Linked DNA regions of Homo sapiens: regions 1 and 2 are each linked to region 3. The links come from fine-mapping of genetic effects on plasma protein levels. A gene starts in region 3. Each other region holds a variant in brackets. All regions are shown on one strand. Distances are from middle to middle.

Region 1 (2,500 bases), 270 kb after region 3:
TGCCGGAGGCCGTGGGCGGCGACATGCAGCAGCTGAACCAGCTGGGCGCGCAGGTGGGCCCGGCGGCGGGGCGTGGGGCGCGGGGCCCAGGTGATTCCAGGATCCGGGCCTGGGGTGGGGGGGACGTCCGGGGGTGCGCGGGAGTTGGGAGAGACTAGACAGAGCGGCGTCTTGTGGGCGTTTGGGGTGTGTGAGGTGGGTTCGGGGCGAGGCTAAGGTGAGCTGGGGTCTGAGGAGAGTGTGGGGAGCCAAGGGATCTCCGGAGGCCTAAGGGCCACCTGAGGGGTCCGAAAGGCTTTGTGGGGTCTCAGAGATGGGACTACGGGACCTCTGCGGGGTCCTGGGGCCGAGGAGAGCTTTTGGGGTCCTAGAAGAGGGACGGAGGGGAGTCTAGATGAGGCTGAAGGAGTTTGGGGAACTGAAGGAACAGACTAAGGGCGTGGGGAGTTTTGGGGAGCAGTGGGGTCCAAAGGGAGATAGATGTTTGGCAGGGAGGCCGAGGAAGCCTGAGGGGAGTGGGAGGGCCCGAGAATCTGAGGGGGCCCGGGGAAGCTTGGCCTGGGCTGCCGTCTTACATCTCAGTGTGACATGAGTGTCAGTAATAGCCAGGCCCCACTGGGGCTCTGTGGGCCTGAGGGGCTCGATCTGGGACAAGGCTGATGACACCTTCCACCTCCACCCAGTTAAGGAGAGTCACTGGGATTCACATGGAAAGAAACCTTATACACTGTGTACAGTGGGGGTCTTCATCCTCGATGGTAGGGGAGCTAGCAAAGCCTTTTTCTCCCCCTTCAGGCTGCAGGTGCCAACCAAGGCAGTCTTGGAGGCATCCTGCTTCTGTGCTGGTTGGGATGCCTTTTCATACCACCAAGGCTGCTGAAATAGGTGAGAATGACACTTCTCACCCCCACTGGGAAGATACATCTATTTCCCCCGCTAGGTTGTCACTTCCCAGGAGGTAGCGCCCCTCTTCTTTCATCTCCATACCCCCCACAACTTCCCACACAGTAGTGCTGCTTGCGAGATAAAAACCAAACTTAGAACTTGTAAC[G/A]ACAGGAAGGTTCTAAGCTTGAGCTATGCAATAGAAAAATTTGCAAGCCACATTTCTAACTTTGCATTTTGTAGTAGCCACATTTAAAAATTAAATAGAAATGGAAATTAATTTTTTTTTTTTGAGACGTAGTCTCATTCTGTCACCCAGGCTGGAGTGCAGTGGCGCGATCTCGGGTCACTGCAACCTCCGCCTCCCAGGTTCAACCAGTTCTCTGTCTCAGTCTCCCGAGTAACTGGGACTACAGGCACACGCCACCATGCCCAGCTAATTTTTGTATTTTTAGTAGAGATGGGGTTTGACCATGTTGGCCAGGCTGGTCTTGAACACCTGACCTCAGGTGATCTGCCCACCTCAGCCTCCCAGAGTGTTGGGATTACAGGCGTGAGCCACTGTGCCCAGCCCTGAGTTTATCTTATGCAAGCATCCTAGAGTTTATTTACACAAACCTACTGCACCCTAGGATATATGGTATAGCGCATTGCTCCTAGGCTACAAACCTATACAGCATGTGACTGTACTGAATACCATAGGCAACTGGACTATAATGGTAAATATTTGTGTGTTTAGACAAATCTAAATAGAAAAGGTACAGTACAAATACAGTATAAAAGATAAAAAATAGGCCGGGCACGGTGGCTCACACCTACCCTAGGACTTTGGGAGGCCAAGGTGGGCGGATCACAAGGTCAGGAGATCGAGACCATCCTGGCCAACATGATGAAACCCTGTCTCTACTAAAAATACAAAAATTAGCTGGGTGTAGTGGCGGGCACTTGTAGTCCCGGCTACTCTGGAGGCTAAGGCAGGAGAATCGCCTGAACCTGAGAGGTGGAGGTTGCAGTAAGCTGCGATTGCACCACTGCATTCCAGCCTGGGCAATAGAGTGAGACTTCATCTCAAAAAAAAAAAAACAACTTTCTAGTTGGGTACGGTGGCACAGCTACCACAGTAGTCCCAGCTACTTGGGAGGCTGAGACAGGAGGATCACTTGAGCCCAGGATTTCAAGGCTGTAGTGCATGGTGATTCCACCTGTGAATAGCCATTGCACTCCAGCCTGGGCAGCATAGTGAGACCCCCATCCCTAAAAAAAAATTTTTTTTTTTCTGTTTTTGATAAGTTGACCTTAGCCTACTGTCAGTTTTTTTTTGTTTGTTTGTTTGTTTTAGACGGAGTCTTCCTCTGTCACCCAGGCTGGAGTGCAGTGGCGTGATCTTGGCTCACTGCAAACTTCACCTCCTGGGCTCAAGTGATTCTTTTGCCTCAGGCTCCCAAGTAGCTGGGACTACAGGCGTGCACCACCATGCCTGGCTAATTTTTGTATTTTTAGTAGAGACAGCGTTTCACCATGTTGGCCAGGCTGGTCACGAACTCCTGACCTCAAGTGATCTGCCTGCCTCAACCTCCCAAAGTGCTGGGATTACAGGCGTAAGCCATGCACCCTGCCA
Region 2 (2,849 bases), 13 kb after region 3:
GCTCCTGACCCATAGTCAGTGCTCAGCAAATGGTAGCTGAGAAGAAATTTTAACCAAGACACCACCTGATGGCAGCATCCTTAATTGCAGACAAAATACTCAGGAATATTTGGAAGGAATGAGCTGGGTATAAAGATATTCCAAGCAGAAAGAAGAGAATGAGTAATGTTTTAGAGATAATAACCTGATGAATGGGTCCAGGGATGGGCCCAAGAGATTAGGAAAATCTGAAACTCATTCTTTGAGAGCCAACTAGCAAAGGGAAAATCTGAGGGTAACAACAACGCATCACAAATCAACCTGTTCTTGTTATCACTCCTTCCTGATAAGGTTGTACCAGGAGAAGGTGCGACATCACAGTGGGGAAATCCAGGACCTCCGAGGTAGCATGAACCAGCTCATTGCCAAGCTCCAGGAGATGGAAGCCATGTCCGATGAGGTGAGACGCTGGCCATTCTGCCCCAAACATCTAATTTCTCTTTGTTTGATGTCCTGTTTCCTATACCTCAAGTGTTCTTTCTTGGTTTTATCTCTCATTTTGAGGGAGCACATCCCCCAGTGACTTTCAGGAATACAGTGAAAGAAGTATATTTTTAGTGCTTGTATGTTTAAAAGCATCTTTTTCTATCCTTGTACTTGGTTGATAGTTTGGCTGGGTACAGAATTCTAAATATGAAATAGTTTCTCCTGAGAATGTTGAAGGAAGCCCACCACTCTATTATAGTTTATACTGTTGCTAATGAGAAGTCTAATGGCACTCTTATTATTGATCCTTTGAGTATGATCTATTTTTTATCCCTGGGAGCTTGTAGAAAAATCTTTTTGTCTCTAATGTTCCTCATATAACCTGGTTTGTGGTTTGCCGAGCTTATTAAATCTGTGGGTTGATATTTTTCAATAGTTTTGGGAAACTTTTACCTTTTATCTCTTAAAATATTTCTTCTTTCCATTATCTGTCTCCTTTCCTTGGATTCTAATTACACCTATGCTAGGCCTATGCTTTGAAAGCCTTTAGAGTGCTTTATGTGATTCCTACGCTATTACCTGGTTTGTTTTTTCATTCTTTTTCTGTTATGTGCTTATGTTTTGATATTTTCCTATTAACCTTTCTTCAGGTTTACTAATAATCTTGCATCATTCTGTCTCTCCAATTTATTATTAAATCCATGCATTTAGTTCTTTTTGTTTTTTTAATGGAGTCTCCCTCTGTCGCCCAGGCAGCTCACTGCAACCTCTGCCTCCTGGGTTCAAGTGCATCCTACACCTGAGTAGCTGGGATTGCAGGTGCACATTACCACGCTCAGCTAATTTTTATATTTTTAGTGGAGACAGGGTTTCACCATGTCGACTTGGCTGGTCTTGAACTCCTGACCTCAAGTGATCCACCTGCCTCAGCCTCCTAAAGTGCTAAGATTACAG[A/G]CGTGAGCCACTGCATCCAGCCTTAGTTCTTAATTTCAGATACTGCATTGTTTAGTTCTAGGATATACATTTGATTTTTTTCACAGACTTTAATTCTGTGGTGAAATTCCCCAACATTTCACCTATGTTGTCCATCTTTTCCTTTATTTTAATTAACACATTAGCAACAGTTATTTTAAAAATCCTTGTCTGCTAACTCCAATGTCTGGATCATCTGTGGCCTCCCTCTGTTTTCTGCTTTTTATCTTGGGTATCAATGATATGGTCTTGCCTCTTCAAGTCTAGTAACTTTTAGTGGTTTCTCAACATTGTATACAAAAGAACTGTAGCTGTTCCAAATAATTATAATTCCACTAGAGAAAGTTCCCCTTTTCTTTATAAGGAGGATGAAATAGACTGGTCACTTCTATCTAGACATGCACTAAGCTAGTTCAGACAGACCTGGATCACAATTTTAAAAAAATTTATCCAGAGGTTTTAAGCTTAACTCTTTAGACTCCTTCCCATGCAGCTTCAAAAATTTGACAACTGTCTTAGTGGCAGACTTACTGTATGTTTGAGGCCTCACAAGTCTCCAAATGTGTCTCTCACCCCTGCATGAACGCAAAAATCTCTGGGCCTGGTGGCAGCCTTCTCCGCCAGGAGCAAACTTGGATTCCTGGGTTCTAATTGTGCCCAGGATTGATTTAGTGCCCCCAGGTGAAGTGCAGCTGAAGCACAGTATTGACTCATCACCACCCCTTCTAGGGTAATGGATCTCAAAGTACGGCCCACGGCCCACGTGCCTGCATCATCAGTATCACCTGGGAAAATGTTAACAATTCGAATTAATAGGCCTCACTCAGACCTTCTGAATCAGAGGCTCTGAAGATGCAAACCAATCATCTGTGTTCCAGCAAGCCTTCCAGGTGGTTCTGACATATACCAGAGAGAATCACTGTTCTAAGGCCTTGATCTCTTGCTTGTTGTGTTTTGCGGTGCCCTCCCTCAAAGGGACTTCGTTTCCTAAGCACTGTGAAGATATGAAGTTTTATTCTGCTTTTCAGAAATGTTTGAAGTGGCCTATAGCCTCCTATAGTCTTGAAATTCAGTTAATACCTTGTGAAGAAAAGTGGCCATATTTGAGGCTCCTCAAGTCCCCAGTTTTGTTACTTTAGCTCTTTGTCACCATTAAGAACTTTGCTTCCTTCTCTTTCACCAGTAGCAGCAGCCCATTGTCTGGCCTAAGCCCAGATCCTTAGCCTATGCCTAGAATCGTCAAATACCCCCAGAGATTTAAAACAAACGGACAAAAAATGCCAGCACATCTCAGAATGGTTTTCTGCTCTGCAGAATTTTAGTTCATCTGGTCCTTGTTGCTTCCACAGATGTGCCTATGGGCTGGCCACCCTTTGGAATCCGTCAATCTGGAAACTCCTGGCCTTTGGGCC
Region 3 (2,849 bases):
GATTGGGGCAAGACTTGGAAGGATCTAGCAGCACAGCCGTAAGACAGAGCCCTCGCACAAGTGGGACCCAGAGAGCGGATGGTTCTCTCACGCTGAGCTCAGAAGGGATATAACTTTAGAACACTCCTTGCATCACGGTGCTAGACAGACCTCTCCCAAGAACACACGTGCGTGCACACACCACATACGCAAACGTGTACACCCAGGGTGAACAGCCGTACCTGTGCACACACATCCAGGCAGCATCATGGGCTTGCACCCTCCCCGACACTTAAGTACACACGTGGGCACAGCTCTATGAAATTTCAAACTCATAAGTAGACACACACAGGTAAAAATAGCCCCTCAAACCGACCTATGCCCACATCACCAAAGCATGTGAGCAAGTCACATGTGCACACTTGCACACTGGCCACATGACGTACTCCCCCCTCACGCATTTATGTAATAAGCATTTGTTGAGCAGCGCCATGTGTCAGGCACTGTCTGGGTGCCAGGGACACAACTTCCAATTAAAATCTGGGTCCTCATGGGCCTTTTGAGTTCACAGCTACGCACACACACTTAGGATTGCACACGCATGTACAGGCTCACAGACACTCACTGGGTAACACACCGCTTACCGTAGCTCAATGCTGCCTTGTTGAGTCGGACCACGGTGCCTGGCGTGGAGGCACCGACCACGGGCAGCAGCAGTGCCAGCAGCAGGCCCAGCCTACTTGCCCAAGCCATGGCTGCCCTGGCCGCTGCCCACAGGATCTGTGGGCTGGGGTAGAAATGAGCATCAGGGAGCTCAGCCAAAACAGCCCACCCCTGAGCCACCCGAACCCCACTCCAGCCTGGAGGGAACAAGCCCTGACTGGTGATCCCAGCCCTGCCCCAGGCCCACAGACATCAGTTTTTGCATCTCTGCATTGGGAACCATCACCTTGCCTTGCTTGCTTCATCAGGAATCATGGGGGAGTCCCTTCTGGAAATGACCCGCAATGCCCAGAGAAGAAATGGTCTTGCCTAGGGCCACACAGTGGACTGGGACCAGGTGCAGGACCCAAGCCATGGCATAGAAGGATGGTGAGACTCCCAAACGGGGAGACTGAGGGTAGTTTCCTGTCCCAAGAAGATGCCCAGGACTGTATCACCTGATGCCGGAGTCCAGCCCCGTGTGACAGCCAGCTTGGTGTCCAGCTGTCCACCAAATTCAGCCAGGGGAGGACCCAGGGTGGCTCCTGTCCTCATCCCCTCCTGGCCAGGTGGTAAATGGCCTAAGAGTAGGCCTCTCACATGGCCCCCATCCTCTCCTGACTCAGTCTGGCCAAATAGGCAGATCTGTGTCTGACTCAGGGAGAGGGAGCCAGGCAGGAGTGAGGGACTGCGGCTCAGGTGGGTCTGCTGAGACCCAGGATGGCGGCACTTGCCCAGGTCCTACAGCAAGGCCAGGGGTGGAAGGACCCTTCTGCAGAGGGTGGCTGGAGGTAGCATCCCCACTGAACAGATAGAGAAGCCAAGCCTCCTTGGAAGTGGTGTACCAGCCCAGCCCCATGCCTACCTCAGGTGGTTCCTGAGACAGGTGAACTCTCAGCCCCAGGGTAGCCCTCCTCTGCCCGAGGCAGGCAGATGCAGAGGCTACTTTATAAGGCTCCCAATGTGCAGAGTCCACTGGGAAGGGACCCAGGGAGCGGCGAGTTTGCTTGTGGTTGCAAGTGTTTTCCCTGCAAACATGGCCTTTGCCAAAGTGTCTCATCCCACATGTGCGCTGGGGCTGCCACGTAGCCAGTAGCCAGGCCCAGCTCCCAACCACTACAAGCCCCTGGGGCTAGGCAGCTATGGCCTTAGTGAGGGCCAGGAGATCTCTGGAAGGAAAGCTGCTTCTAGGAGGGTATCTTATCATGCCCAGCCAAGGCCTGGGAGGATGGGGCCCATGAGGACCCCATCCCCCCTCCCATAGGCAAGGGGATGGCTGCAATGACCCCTCAAGCCTGGTACCTCCAAGCTCTCTCGGAAACATGACCCTTTTAGGAGGGGCAGAAGGCTACCTGAGCACCATCCTCAGTCATTGACTGAGCCCTGACCCTGTCACATATTCACACACTGAGTCCTGACCCCAGTTACTGAGCTCTGACCCTGATCACATGCTGAGCCCTGATCCCAGTCACAAACTGAGCCCTAACTCAGAAGGGAACAGAAGAGAAAGTGTGCGTGACCTGTCCCCACAGCTTAACATCCCAGCCTCTCTCCAAATGCACATTCCACTCACAATGGATTAGTCCACGGTCTCTTTCCACATTACAAACGTCAGCCTCCGCCTTGGCTGGATGGGACCCAAGGAACTGTGTGTGCGCATGAAGGAATTTGCATATGCACATGTGTGGATGAGGGTTGTGTTGATACATGCATGTGAGTGTGTGTGCATAGTCACATGTACGGGGAAAATGTGTGCTCTTATGTGTGAGTGTGGACATGAAATGGGCACGTTGGCATCTTGGTTTATGGTGTTGTGTGTCTATTCACACAATCCAACAGGACCACAGAGGTGGGGAGTTTTGTGTACATGTATGCATGTGTGGGCTTGGCCTACTGAGTGTTTGTGGGTCTGTGAGTGTGTGGTGTTAGGTGCATGTGTGTATGCAAGTGGACTGTTTCCTGGGATGGGGAGGTACATGTATATATGTTCTTGTGTGTGTGCATATATGTGTGCACAGCAGGCGATGGCCTTTCCATTTTTCTTCATTGGCACAGGATGACTTGGGGCCTTTCCCCAACTCCAGGGCACTCTTTGACTCCCACTGACCCCACACCAGCCCAAATATCAGGCCCAGCTCCCAGGCCCACCCTGTGCTAGGCCTCCACCA

Direction of the effects. Alleles are on the strand shown, and positions count from the first base shown. The strength of an association depends on the size of the effect and on how common the allele is.
In carriers of allele A in region 1, the plasma level of the protein whose gene starts at base 1,603 in region 3 tends to be higher than with G alone (strong association).
For the plasma level of the protein whose gene starts at base 1,603 in region 3, A is the low allele of the variant in region 2 and G is the other (strong association).

The links. PIP is the chance, under the fine-mapping model, that this variant and not a neighbour inherited with it causes the effect. Protein levels are from antibody-based Olink assays in UK Biobank. Linkage for the fine-mapping came from a reference panel and not from the study's own genotypes, which makes the PIPs less certain.
Region 1: its variant is fine-mapped to the plasma level of the BPIFB2 protein (UK Biobank, PIP above 0.99).
Region 2: its variant is fine-mapped to the plasma level of the BPIFB2 protein (UK Biobank, PIP above 0.99).

The regions. Positions count from the first base shown.
Region 1 is chr20:32,740,861-32,743,360 of GRCh38, reverse strand. It overlaps COMMD7 (COMM domain containing 7), which reads left to right. Exons shown (of 9, transcript NM_053041.3): 1 at 1-53. Among named protein-coding and RNA genes, the nearest start is that of COMMD7, 1.4 kb to the left of the region's middle. RefSeq lists silencers at 49-118, 1,103-1,277 and enhancers at 231-1,058, 1,728-2,229. The variant G/A (reference allele first, on the strand shown) is at 1,052.
Region 2 is chr20:32,993,209-32,996,057 of GRCh38, reverse strand. It overlaps SUN5 (Sad1 and UNC84 domain containing 5), which reads left to right. Exons shown (of 13, transcript NM_080675.4): 8 at 331-439. Among named protein-coding and RNA genes, the nearest start is that of SUN5, 9.8 kb to the left of the region's middle. The variant A/G (reference allele first, on the strand shown) is at 1,420.
Region 3 is chr20:33,006,458-33,009,306 of GRCh38, reverse strand. BPIFB2 (BPI fold containing family B member 2) reads right to left here and starts at 1,603. Exons shown (of 16, transcript NM_025227.3): 1 at 1,547-1,603; 2 at 624-766. The coding sequence starts at 732. RefSeq lists enhancers at 228-1,222, 1,223-2,218.